2 linked regions of the Homo sapiens genome follow. Changing the gene in region 2 together with the main gene of any one other region gives a genetic interaction. Each region holds a gene or a part of one and is shown on either strand. Other genes may lie near its edges.

What was found. A genetic interaction does not mean that the proteins touch.
Region 1: of GLI1 (region 2) and SAP18, changing one suppresses a phenotype caused by changing the other (phenotypic suppression), as found in Homo sapiens cells (one study listed by BioGRID).

What each region holds. Positions count from the first base shown.
Region 1 is NC_000013.11:21,143,098-21,149,612, forward strand, and holds the end of SAP18 (histone deacetylase complex subunit SAP18), read left to right. Parts: intron 1-1,994; coding exon of another isoform or gene 1,995-2,187; intron 2,188-3,707; coding exon 3,708-3,830; intron 3,831-4,088; coding exon 4,089-4,245; 3' UTR 4,246-6,000; downstream 6,001-6,515. UniProt on the Homo sapiens protein: Component of the SIN3-repressing complex. Enhances the ability of SIN3-HDAC1-mediated transcriptional repression. When tethered to the promoter, it can direct the formation of a repressive complex to core histone proteins.
Region 2 is NC_000012.12:57,462,777-57,469,812, reverse strand, and holds part of GLI1 (zinc finger protein GLI1), read right to left. Parts: exon of another isoform or gene 6,841-7,036; intron 6,149-6,840; 5' UTR 6,122-6,148; coding exon 6,022-6,121; intron 5,815-6,021; coding exon 5,722-5,814; intron 5,141-5,721; coding exon 4,945-5,140; intron 4,703-4,944; coding exon 4,558-4,702; intron 4,207-4,557; coding exon 4,117-4,206; intron 4,026-4,116; coding exon 3,888-4,025; intron 3,574-3,887; coding exon 3,424-3,573; intron 2,481-3,423; coding exon 2,316-2,480; intron 1,820-2,315; coding exon 1,589-1,819; intron 383-1,588; coding exon 115-382; intron 1-114. UniProt on the Homo sapiens protein: Acts as a transcriptional activator. Binds to the DNA consensus sequence 5'-GACCACCCA-3'. Regulates the transcription of specific genes during normal development.

The DNA of each region.
Region 1 (6,515 bases), on a different chromosome or scaffold from region 2:
ATCACATATGTACTCATCTATTGATGGACACTTGGGTTGTTTCACCTTTTTTGCCATTGTGAATAATGCTGCTGTGAACATTGGCATACAAATGTGTTTGTGTCGCTGCTTTCAGTTCTTTTGGGTATGTACCTAGGAGGGGATTACTGGGTCATATGTTAACTTTGTTTAATTTTTGAGGAACCACCAAACTTTTTCACAGCAGCTGCACTATTTTATATTCCCCAAAAGATGTATAATTTTAAACTATTTAAGCCCTGTACACTAGAGCTAATCCCTTGAAGATTGGGACCTTACTTGTCTTATTTGGAGGTGCTTGTTAAATTTATGTAGTAGTATGATACCTGTACTTAAGCATCACTCAAGGGTAAGTGTTCTAGGAAGGTTGATTTAGCTTATATGGAAGAACTGTTGAATAATGGCTTGATGAAAATCTCTTCAGAAATTAAAGTGTATGTTTCTTCCAACAAGAGTTCCTATTTGCCAGGTGCTGTGTGTGCTTAGATCCTGAGGGTATAAAGTCAAGACGGTACTGCTCCTCCCTGTAGTAAGTCCTTTTATCAGGGAAAGCGGATGAATAGAGTGATTTTTAGGGTTAAAATGGCAGGGTGAGGTTGTTCCACAGACCTTCCACTCTGAATCAAGAAAAAAAATTACCAAAAAAATCCTGTCCTAAACTATACCGTCCATAAATTGCAACCAAACAAAGAAGGAACAACTTTAAGTTACATCTCAAAATGGTGGCCAAAGAAAAGATTCTGAAAGACTGGATGATTGGTATGGGGGTAACACAAAGGCCTGCCCTCATTCCCAGAAATAGTAATGAGGGAAAATTAGTTAACATATACTGGAAATTCTCAATTTGGAGAAGTAGACTGTGGGGTTAAATAGGCAGTCCCAAGAGAAGTTATGGAAACAGGAGTGGAAGTCCAGAGGAGCCCAGTAGAGGCAGGCTGTGTTCACCAAAGTCAATCAGGGCTCAGCCAGAAAAACAGAATTGGGAGAGATGTGTTAAGAGATTTATTTCTGCTGGGCGTGGTGGCTCACGCCTGTAATCCCAGCACTTTGGGAGGCCGAGGTGGGCGGGTCATGAGGTCAGGAGTTGGAGACCAGCCTGGCCAACATGGTGAAACCCCGTCTCTGCTAAAAATACAAAAATTAGCCAGGCATGGTGGCGGGTGCCTGTAATCCCAACTACTTGGGAGGCTGAGGCAGGAGAATTGCTTGAACCCAGGTGGCAGAGGTTGCAGTGAGCCGAGATCAGCGCCACTGCACTCCAGCCCGGGCGACAGAGCGGGACTCCATCTCAAAAAAAAAAAAAAAAAAAAAAAAAAGCTTTATTGCAAAGAATTTGGTTTACGTGATTGTGGGGGCTGTCTAGGCCCTTAATTGTCAAATCTGTAGGGCAGGTTCTCAGGAAGGAAAGGCTGCTCTTAGGGCCTTTCAACTAATAGAATCAGGCCTCCCCAGATTATATAGGATAGACCTCTGAATTTAAGGTCAATTGGTTGTTGACTTTAGTCACATCTATAAAATATCTCACAGCAATACCTAGGTTAGTGTTTGGTTGAATATCTGGGGACTGTAGCTTCGTCAAGCTGACACAAGTACTGAACCCCACCCTGTCCTCAAGCTTCTGACTAGTGATGAAAAAGCAACACTTGGCACTCCAATTGTTGGTCTGGAAAGACAGTCCTTAGAAGGTGGGAAGCTTGTGTAGGTTTCACACTGTCAGAACTGATAAAAGGTGTGATATAAATCCCCCAAATTAATTAAGAGCAAGACAATATTGAAAATATTTTTAGAAAGGAAAAAATTCTTTCTGGTATATATCATCATAAGTATGTACTGTGTATCAGAATATAGACTGAGCATCGCAAGTCCAAAATCTGAAATGCCACAAAATCTGAAACTTTTGAGAGCTGACGTGACACCGGTGGAAAATTGCACACATAAGTTCTTGACCTCTTTTTTTTTTTTTTTTTTTGAGACAGAGTCTTGCTCTGTCATCCAGGCTGGAGTGCAGTGGCGCGATCTCGGCTCACTGCAACCTCTGCCTCCCAGGTATAAGCGATTCTCCTGCCTCAGCCTCCTGAGTAGCTGGGATTACAGGCGTGCACCAAACTTCCTTTCATGCACACAATTACTTAAAATGATGTATAAAATTGTATTCCAGCTGTGTATAAGGTATGTTTGAAACATAAATGAGTTTCTTATTTAAACTTGGGTCACAACCCCAAGATATCTTACGTATATGCAAAAATTCTAAAATTTGAAAAAACCTAAAACGCTTCTAGTCCCATGTATTTTGGGTAAGGGATACTGAACCTATAATTGATACAGAATAGTTAACATCAAAATATCAGGTTGAAAAAAGGTCACCTCTGAGACAGATAAACCAATGTGACCTCAGGTTTTTTTGTTTTTGAGACAGAGTCTCAGTCTGTCACCCAGGCTGGAGCACAGTGGCACAGTCTTGGCTCACTGCAGCCTCCGCCTCCCAGGTCAAGCGATTCTCTTGTCTCAGCCTCTCGAGTAGCTGGGATTATAGGCTACAGATGTGTGCCACAACGCCTGGCTAATTTTTGGATTTTTAGTAGAAACGGGGTTTCACCATGTTGGCCAGGCTGCTCTCGAACTTGAGCTCCTGGCCTCAGGTGATCCACCCGCCTTGGCCTCCCAAAGTGCTGGGATTACAGGCATGAGCCTCCGCACCTGGCAAAAAAATGTATACTAGGTTATTTCTAAGATGCTTATATGTTAAAATATTTTTTTCAGATTGTTCTCTTATTAGCTCAGGGGACTATATGAAAGTTGGATTCAAGTCAATATTTGCAGGGTAAGAAACTATTGTGACAAGAGCCTGTGCTTCATTGTAAGAAACTTTTGTATATTTCATTGGCTCTAGTACTCTTATCTGTTGTAAAACTTACAATTCTATCTAAGAAAGAAGAAACACATCTGGCTGGGCGCAGTGGCTCACGCTTGTAATCAATCCCAGCACTTTGGGAGGCCAAGATAGGTGGATCACTTGAAGTCAGGAGTTCGAGACCAGCATGGCCAACATGGTGAAACCCTGTCTCTACTAAAAATAGAAAAATTACCTGGGCGTGGTGGTGGGCGTCTGTAATCCCAGCTACTCAGGAGGCTGAGGCAGGAGAATTGCTTGAACCTGGGAGGCGGAGGTTGCAGTGAGCTGAGGTCACGCCACTGCACTCTAGCCTGGGCGACAGAGCGAGACTCTCTCAAAAACAAAACGTCAGTATGAAAATGCTTTCCTAGTACATTGATTCTAAGATACATTCCAATTTCAGAGATGCTAAAATGTGGAAGGGTACATGTCTTAGAACTAATGGGATACATCTATTTTGCATATTTGGATTTATTTGGACTAGTTACCCTTAGGTAAATCACTAGGCCATAAGGTGTTGTGTAGCAACAGAAGATAGCATATAGAATCTCTGAAGTCCCTTTTAGCACTAAGAGTCTAATTAATTGAAATTTCCAGCAGTAAGGCTGGTACATGGAGTTTTTGGAGGCAAATAGTATTTTTAGCTGCTTTAAAATTAATCTCTAGTATAAGACCCTGGCAGTTTCTAATGTAAATCACAACTCAGATATATGTAATTAACTCATTGTTAGTATCCCTTTTAATATTATTGCTGATTAATAAGCAAATGTAAATGTCTTTTTTAAAAAAAATCCAGGATGGATGCAACCTTGAAAGAACTGACAAGCTTAGTAAAAGAAGTCTACCCAGAAGCTAGAAAGAAGGGCACTCACTTCAATTTTGCAATCGTTTTTACAGATGTTAAAAGACCTGGCTATCGGTAGGTAACTTCTCATTTTTAAGTCCTGTAATCTCTTTGTTTTTAGTATGTTTTAACTGATACAGATAACTCCTTCAATGAATCTTGTTAGTGGGAGAATATGGGTTTATATTAATACGTGGTTTGGCTTAATAAAGTAGTTAAATTTTGGAAGTGTGTTATAAAATGATGGAGAAAATCCAGTGCCATATTCACTTTGTAGTACATACTGGGTTTCATTGATTTGGATCCATTAACAGTTGATTTTCTTTCTTACAGAGTTAAGGAGATTGGCAGCACCATGTCTGGCAGAAAGGGGACTGATGATTCCATGACCCTGCAGTCGCAGAAGTTCCAGATAGGAGATTACTTGGACATAGCAATTACCCCTCCAAATCGGGCACCACCTCCTTCAGGGCGCATGAGACCATATTAAATTCTATTTACTATTTGTTGAATTTATTTTTCCGTCAGTTATGTAAAATAAACATACTCTTCTTCCTCCCCTGATTATTGCCATTAAGCCTTTAAATTCTAAACAAATTATAATGCATCATCTATTTAGGAGTTAGATTTGGATGTGCTATTGTATGATTACGAATAGTCTGTATGTTTCAAGCCCTTCTGTAAAATATGAAGAAAAGTGCTCTTAGCATTCTGTGTAAAACTGTACTGTTAAATATATGTGTGTAATCAGCCTGAGTGTGAAAGTTAATGGAGGCCTGGGAACAGGGTTTATACTAAGTAGTGGAGGAGCGTATGGTTAAGCCCAAAGGGGCAGAACAAGAAAGCCACGGGATTGTATGAAATCAAACATGAGTTTGTGGTGTAGACTGCTGTATGCAGTTGGAAAGGACACGTGAGAGTGAGCTCAAGTGGCAGCAGAGGCAGTTTGGAATAAGCTGCGGCAAGTTGAAGAAGCTGTGTTGGACGAGATTGCCCCGCCTTGATCAGGGTACCATGACATAAAAGGTTAAAGAACAGGCAACACAATGAGCACTTAAGTTTTTAACATGTGGGGAATAGGGCATTTTAAAGGCTGGAACCAGTTCAGAGGAAACAAGGGTTTGGGTAGAGGTAGAAAGGTTTAATTAACCCTGGAGATCTGCAAATGGAGGGAGGGGTGAAGGAGGAATCTTAAGACCGAGGGAGAAGAGCCAAGGACAAGGTCAGGTTGAATGAGTAGGAGGTGTTCACACATCCTCTTGTGTGCTAGGTAGTGGCGTGCATCTGATCTGAGAGGCAGTAAAGCAGTGATGAAGACAGTGCAGCAGAACATTGAAGTCCTGATTGCAGCAGTGACTCTGCAACCTTGGATAAATTATTTCAATCTTTATTTTGTAAAACGGAGATAACGGCCTATAGGATTGTTAAGACTGAATATTTTAAAAGAGCTTAGAATGGTGCCTGACAAATGAGAAACAATAAATACTGATTATTGGCCATAAAGTGGTATTAAAACTGGATCTCTTTTCTTCCATGGCACTACTCTCATTTTGAAGTTTATGAACAGTACGACAGTGTATTGTAAATTCCCTTTAGTTTGTTACAGTAGCCAATTGAAAATGTATATCCCAAAATTTAAAAAAAAAAGTACCAGCAGCAATAAAATTGCACTAGTTTTATCTGGTACATACAAAAACAGCCATTTAAAATCTGATGATTCTGTGGAATTGGTGTCCCTGTTAGCAATGGCAGAGACCAGCCTGGAGCCTAGATCTGGTGCTTCTTCTGTGCTGTGGTTTACCCCAAACCTTTAGGTTGTTTATTCATTCAGATTAGATAGACTGGAGCCATAAAGTTAATTTGCACCTAGCTTTTTGGAGAATAGCCATGATTAACTGCTATTCGTGGTGGGGGTGGGGGGGAACCCTATGATTTACTATGCAGATGAAGAGGGTAGGAACTAAATAAAGGACTTTGTAAGCCAAAGTGGTTGGGCTGCTTTGTCAAATTCCACCCTTTGCTTGGTTCCAACATGGAATTTCTCCTTTAAAGATTTCAATATCCCATCAAAAGTACAGTTAGAGAATACCTAGTGAATTTATTGAATATAATGCTAAGAATCAAAAGACTTGTACTAGTTTACCTCTGGCTTTGGTAAGTGTGGCTTTGAGTAATAACTGAGCTGTTTCCCCGCATATAAAATAGAAATAAATAAGTAGTCATCATGACAGCATCTTGCTCAGTGCTTTAGTGTCTGCCCTGGTTGCCTCATTTGCTCCTAGGTATTTTGGAATTGACGTTTTCCCTTTGGAATATGTGTTACAGTACATGATATTGCCTATAATGTCTTTTTAGTTTTTCACGGTGTACAAAAACTGGGACGGTTATGCCCAGCTGATCATTGACTCAGGTAATGTTTTAGGTATCGGTTGTATGCATGTGAGGGGCAGGTGTGAATGTAGAAAGAAACATTATTAGGCTAGGTTTAAAATTCTCTAAAGTTGAACATAATAAGGAGCTGAACTTGATGCACCTCTTTCTTGTTCAATTAAACACATTTCAGACTTGTTTTTGTGAAATAGAAGGCAACACTCTAAATCAAGTTTGTAACTATGATTTAAGTGTTTACTTGTGCCAAACACAGATGGTTCCCAAGTTATGATAGTTCAACTTTAGATTTTTCAGCTTTGCAGTGGCGCATAAGCGATAAGCCATTCACTACGGTCCTCAGCTTATTATGGGGCTACATCCCAATAAACC
Region 2 (7,036 bases):
TTTTCTAATTATACAAAAGTGCTGTGTGACAGCCCTCAAGGGTGACTTCCTCCTCTCAACCTCAGGGCAGGTCCAGATCTCACCCCAGCCACACCTCCCACACCCAGGTCTCACCGGTGTGGGACAAGCTGGGCAGTTTGAGACCCCGGGTCCCTATTGGCCGGAGTTGATGTAGCTGGTCCAGCCTGAGGTTCTCAAGGCGGCGAAGAGTGGACAGACCAGTGCCAGCAATGCAAGGTCCCTCGTCCAAGCTGGAGAGGTCTTCAGTGCTGCCCCCTGCATTGCCAGTCATTTCCACACCACTGTCTGTATTGGCTGCACTCCCTGCCGGGGAGTGGTCACTGCTGCAGGATGACTGGGCCCCAGGGCTTGGCTGTGGCTTCTGTGGAGAAGATGAGGTCTGAGGGCAACACCCTTCCCCACAGCTCCTTCAACTTGATGAGTGGCTGAAGCCTGTGTCCCAGTGACTGCTGGGGTTCCAAGGAAGCTTGTAAGTGTAGAAAGGGCTAAGCAGGTAAGAGATGGGGGAGCAAACTGAATGTGAGACGTTTGATGAGAAGAACCTAGGCTGGAGCACGGACTGGCTGGACTCAAATTCTTGCTCTTAGTTCTATGACCTTGGGCTATTTCTCTATGCCTGAGTTTCTTCAACTGAAAATGGGAACAGTGAGTCCCTTTATCATGAAGTTGCTGTGAGGAGTACATGAAATTATACATGTAAAAGGCTTGGAACATATACTAAGTGCTATTTAAGAAAGAGTTGCCGGGTGCAGTGGCTCACGCCTGTAATCCCAGCACTTTGGGAGGCCGAGGTGGGCAGATCACGAGGTCAGGAGATCAAGACCACCCTGGTTAACACAGTGAAACCCCATGTCTACTAAAAATACAAAAAAATTAGCCCGGCGTGGTGGCAGGCGCCTGTAGTCCCAGCTACTCAGGAGGCTGAGGCAGAATGGCGTGAACCTGGGAGGCGGAGGTTGCAGTGAGCCGAGATCATGCCACTGCACTCCAGCCTGGGCAACAGAGCGAGACTCCGTCTGAAAAAAAAAGAAAGAGTTTGGGTTGGATGCATTGGCTCATCCCAGCACTGTGGGAAGCTGAGGTGGGAGGATCGCTCAAGGCCAGGAGTTTGAGACCAGCCTGGTCAACATAGCAAGACTCGATCTCTAAAAAGAAGAAAAATTAGCCAGGCATGATGGGGTGTGCCTGTAGTGATCACTTGAGCCCAGAAGTTTGAGGCTGCAGTGAGCTATGATTATGCCACTACACTCCAGCCTGGGCGACAGAGCAAGACTCTGTCAGAAAGAAAGAGAGAAAGAGAGAGAGAGAGAAAGAAAGAAAGGAAGAAAGGAAAGAAGGAAAGAAGGAAGGAAGGAGAGAGAGAAAGAGAGTGAGAGAGTGAGACAGAAAGATTCTAAAACCTCTAGATTTGGGGAAGCCCAAAGAGCAACACTAAGACAAGAGACAGGCAGACTGGTCACAGAAGAGTGACTTCTATAGGAGGGAATGGATGGGTTGGGAAGTAACTAGAAAGATGTCCACAGGGTGGGCTGGGGTATGGAGGTGAGGGTTGCCTGGGCTCTCTCACCATGGCACCCTCTGGCACAGTCAGTCTGCTTTCCTCCCTGATGGGACCTCCTTCCCGCTCCCTCTTGGGCTCCACTGTAGAAATGGATGGTGCCCGAGGCAGGGGGCCATCCCCACGGTGCCGTTTGGTCACATGGGCGTCAGGACCATGCACTGTCTTGACATGTTTTCGCAGCGAGCTAGGATCTGTATAGCGTTTGGTGCAGCCAGGGAGCTTACATACATACGGCTTCTGTTGAGTGGAGAGTGGAGACAGAAGGCAAACGGATCAAAGCGGAAGAATGCAGAAGAAATGGGAAAAAGTGGTGACAACACAGGGGGCAGGGGAGGAGCACACAGCACCAAAGGAAGTAAGGAGGATGGAGGCCTCCGGTGGGAGTCAAAGATGCAGAGATTAAGTGGAGGGTTAGGAAAACTGACAGCCTGGGAAAGATGAGGGGGTGAACCCAGGGCTGTGAGGTCCCATAAATCCAGGGGTTGGAGGGATCAGGGGTCTCCTCTAGATGGAATCTTTTAGGTTAGCCTTTTGGCTGGTTAGAGGTTAGAGGTAGGAGGAGGAGTGGTTAAGTGGAAATTCTGGGTTTCAGAAAAGCCTTTTCTGGGCGAATTATGTGGGGAGGGGGACTCACCTCTGTGGAGTGGGTGCTGGGCTAAGGGATTTCTTATGGGGGAATCTCCCTGGTAGGTGGCTTCTCAAGAGGGGAGGGTCGCTTAGTTAGGGCATTCACCTCATTGGAATGGGTCCGATTCTGGTGCTTGGCTCGGTCACTGGCATTGCTGAAGGCTTTACTGCAGCCCTCGTGCTCACACATGTATGGCTTCTCACCCGTGTGTGACCGCAGGTGCGTCTTCAGGTTTTCGAGGCGTGAGTATGACTTCCGGCACCCTTCAAACTGGGGGACATGCAGGGGTCAAAGGATAGTTCTCAGACAGAGGACATGGAGATGGAAGGAACCCTCAATCTCCAACAGGACACACATCAGAGAATATAACTCAAGATGAAAGGCACTGGGGCTTCGAGAGAATTCCCAAAACTAGGGGACAAGGGCAGGCAAGAACTTGGAGAAGGGAAGCAGTTGGAGGCACTCTCCCTTTGGGAATATAAAGATGCTAGAGCATCTTCTGACCAAGCCAGGGCAGATTTCTCTGCATGGGGATCTTAGGCTGTCCCAAGATGGGGTCATCTTGGGGGAACGGGCTGTTGTCCTTGATGCAGGGTTTATCCATTAGGCAGAGTAGTAGGCACAGTACTGAAGGCCAACAATACTTTAAGAGGCCCACGAACATGTTTTAATGTCTTTTTTAAAAAAAATTTTTTTTTTGAGGCGGAGTTTTGCTCTGTCGCCCAGGCTGGAGTGCAGTGGCGCCATCTCAGCTCACTGCAACCTCCACCTCCTTGGTTCAAGTGATTCTTCTGCCTCATCCTCCCAAGTAGCAGGGACTACAGGCGCCCATCACCACGCCCAGCTAATTTTTATATTTTTTAGTAGAGACAGGGTTTCACCAATATTGGCCAAGCTGGTCTCGAACTCCTGACCTTGTGATCTGCCTGGCTCAGCCTCCCAAAGTGCTGGGATTACAGGTGTGAGCCACCGTGCCTGGCCTGTTTTAATGTCTTTTAAAATCAAGGGGAAAAAAATGAGCTTTTAGGTCCAAGAGTGTTTTAATATATATCATCATATTCATCTTTATGCCAACACAGTCACACAAACATTATTTTTAATATTTGTTTATGGAAGAAAGGACTTATAAAAGCAAAAGTCTGCCTTGGGCCCTACCTTGAAGGAGAGCCCTGATTTAGGAAGAGACCCTGGACTTGGGACACTGGTGCCTCACCGTGCACTTGTGTGGCTTCTCGCCAGTGTGTCTGCGCATGTGAACCACCAGCATGTACTGGGCTTTGAAGGGCCTCAGCTCCCTGGAGCAGCCCCCCCAGTGGCACACGAACTCCTTCCGCTCCCCGTGGATGTGCTCGCTGTTGATGTGCTGAGGGAGAAGATACAAAGGCTCTCCAAGGCTCTCCCATGACCCTGAGGTCCAGAACAGACCTTCCCTCCACCCCCTGTTCCTCTTCCACGACTCCACCTCAAGGAGGAAGAGGCAGGAGCAATATCATATCTCACATCTCAGGTCTTCCAGCTCCCTAAGGCAAAGCTACAACTTCTGAGCTTCTGCCTACCCAACTGAGCATTCAACCTCAGTCTCCTCTGACCTCCTGCCCTCAGCCGGATTCCACCATGTCCCACTCAGAATCTCCTAAAGGTTCTGGCTAGCCATTCCTGTTACCCCCTGGGGCTCACGTGCACCAGCTGCTCTTGGGAGTCAAATTCCTGGCTGCAGCCATCCCAACGGCAGTCAGTTTCATACACAGATTCAGGCTCACGCTTCTCCTCTCTCTCGAGGTCCTCCCGCCCATCCAGCATCCCCAACAGGGGATCCTAGGGCAAGAGAGGCAATCTCAGGGTCACTTGGGTGACAGCTTTAGTTTTGCTCAGGTCCCAGAGGTAAAGCTCCTGCCCATCCCCTTACCTGTATGCCTGTGGAGTTGGGGCTGGACATATCACCTTCCAAGGGTTCCTCCCGGCACTTGCCAACCAGCATGTCCAGCTCAGACTTCAGCTTCCCCAGGGGAAGAGGTGACGGTGATGAGGGTGGAAGTAAGCAGAAGGAAGAGGAAACCAAGCCAGGTCTTCCTGCCCTAAGTGCCCCCACCCAAGCAGCTGGAACCTCCTGGGTTTGGAAGGGACTTCCTCCTCAGACTACACTGGTGAATGGGATGGGCAAAAGGTGGGATCCCATTTGGAAGCGTCTGACTCAACTGCAAGGAGTGAACCCCAGCACCCACACCTCTTTACTTTTCTAGTACTGAAAACTTATATCCCTTGTCCTTCCTTCACCTTTCCCCTACAAAATCCACCACCCACCCACCCTGAGCTGAGGGAAATCAGGTAGCAATATGGGGACTCTCACCTGGCAAGTTGGGAAGGGTCCCCGGGACTGAGGATGTGGGATCATCCCACCCCGGGCAGAGTCATGGGGACCACAAGGCTGGACCCCAAAGGAAGGCGAGGGCCCTTTTTGGTGATTCATCTGGGCTGGGAATCCCAGAGATGGGCTGAGGAGGAGAGGAGGCAGTTACTTAAGACAATTAGGAAGTCTCAGGAAGGATTGGGCTATTTGGAGGATTTCTGGAAGACTTGGGATTTGTAGTGGTTGAGGCAGTCCCAGGGAAGTACTGAGGAGAGTTGTCTTTGAAATGACAAGGATTCAAATAGGGTTAGGTAGTTTGAGGGCTTGAGACTTTTAATGGACTTGGGTAGGGGCTTTAGGGGCCTCTTGGCCCGGGGCTGACTGCACCTCATGGTGCCAATGGAGAGATGACCGTAGGAGCCTCCTGGAGATGTGCATCGCGAGTTGATGAAAGCTACGAGGGAGCTGGGTGAGGTGCGGATAACCGTCTGCAGGTCCAGGCTGGCATCCGACAGAGGTGAGATGGACAGTGCCCGCTTCTTGGTCAACTTGACTGCACTCCGGGGAGAAGAAAAGAGTGGGCCTGGGGCAGGAGACAGCGGAGACGGATATGGTAAAGGGGCATGTCTCTCCATGCACCTAACCTATGGGTCCTGACTTGGCAAAACCAATGATACTTGATTCTGCTTTGCCCTATTGATGCTATCTGTGACTTTTTTTTTTTTTTTTTGAGAGACACAGAGTCATGCTCTGTAACCCAGGCTGGAGTGCGTGGCACCATCTTGCCTCACTGCAACCTCTGCGTTCCCAGGTTCAAGTGATTCTCCTGCCTCAGCCTCCCCTGTAATCGGCACTACAGGTGCAAGCCACCACGCCCGGCTAATTTTTGTATTGTTAGTAGAGACAGGGTTTCACCATGTTGGCCTGGCTGGTCTTGAATTCCCGACCTCAAGCGATCTTCCTGCCACGGCTTCCCCACAAAGTGCTGGGATTACAGGCGTGAGCCACCGCGCCCGGCCCCATCTGTGACTTCTTGATGGTGCTCTGACGCCTCACATCTCCAAGCATCTCCTCCTCCAAGTGAGATCCCCTGCCCTCCCACTTTCTCTTTCAGAACAAGTCAGAGAGGGGCAGAAAGGGAAGAGGTGTTGCCTGAGCCCTCACCCTCGGTGCAGCTGTTGGTCTCTCTGGCTGGCCCATAACTGTGGGGGCCGGACATGAGGTTAGCTTGGTGGCAGAAGGGCGGGCCAGACAGTCCTAGAAAAAAGAGACAGCTGGAATGGGAATGGAGGATACATAAACCTCACCTTAAAACCCCAGACATGACCTGATCCCAGATTCCAGGTCCATATGACATGGGGCCTCAAATCCTCCTGTAGATAGGAAACTGGCATGGGGTGGGGGTGGGCCCAAGTGGGAGATCTGCCAAATCCTCAAGGCCCAGGGATTGGTATATACACTGACCTTCTGTCCCCACACTGGGGGCCCCCTGACTGGGGAGGGGCCGGAGACAGCAGGGCTCGCCATAGCTACTGATTGGTGGTGGGGTCATCGAGTTGAACATGGCGTCTCAGAGGAGGGTGTGGGGACACTGCAGAAAGGGAAGGTAGGTATAAAGGTGGAGGAAATAGAGACTGTCAGACAGCAGTCTCAGGCACAGAATCCTGGGCAGAACATCCCTGGTATCCCCCACCCCTCTAAGACATCTGCCACGGAATTCGAGTTGAAAAGAGCATCACTGAGCCGGGCACAGTGGCTCACGCCTGTAATTCCAACGCTTTGAGAGGCTGAGGCGGGAGGATCACCTGAGGTCAGTTGAAGACCAGCCTGGCCAACATGGTGAAACCCCCGTCTCTACAAAAAAACAAAAATTAGCCAGTCATGATGGCGGGTGCCTGTAATCCCAGCTACTCGGAAGGCTGAGGCAGAAGAATCGCTTGAACCTGGGAGGCGGAGGTTTCAGTGAGCCGAGATGGTGCCACTGCACTCCAGCCTGGGTGACAGAGCTAGACTCCGTCTCAAAACAAAAAAAGCATCACTCGCTGAGTGAGGGGAGGGGTAAGGGGAAATGATGTCCCAGAGAGGCAGAGGCAGTCTTGTAGTCTGTGTACTCTGGGGATCTTCTTGGGAACTGGGTGGGAGCTTTGCCTGGGTGGGAGCTTTGCCTGTGTGGTCTGTGTGTAGAAGGCATGTTTTGGACTAATTGTGCCTATATTAACTTCAAGTGATTTTAGTAACATGGACCCTCTAATTCTTCTTGCTGTAACCCTGGGCCGGCTTTGAGGGTGGGATGGGAGAACTCGTGTGATGGATCTGACTTCAAGCACTGGGCGGCTCTGCTAGAGCCCGTTCCCCCTTCCTTCTCGTGCCCCTCCCCAGGGACAGCCCGTGTACAATCTCTGCAGTGTCCAGCAGAGGGAGCCCTAGCCACAGTCCCGACACAGAGCCAGGTGGGGCCAGGAGGGAGCACAAGCCATCT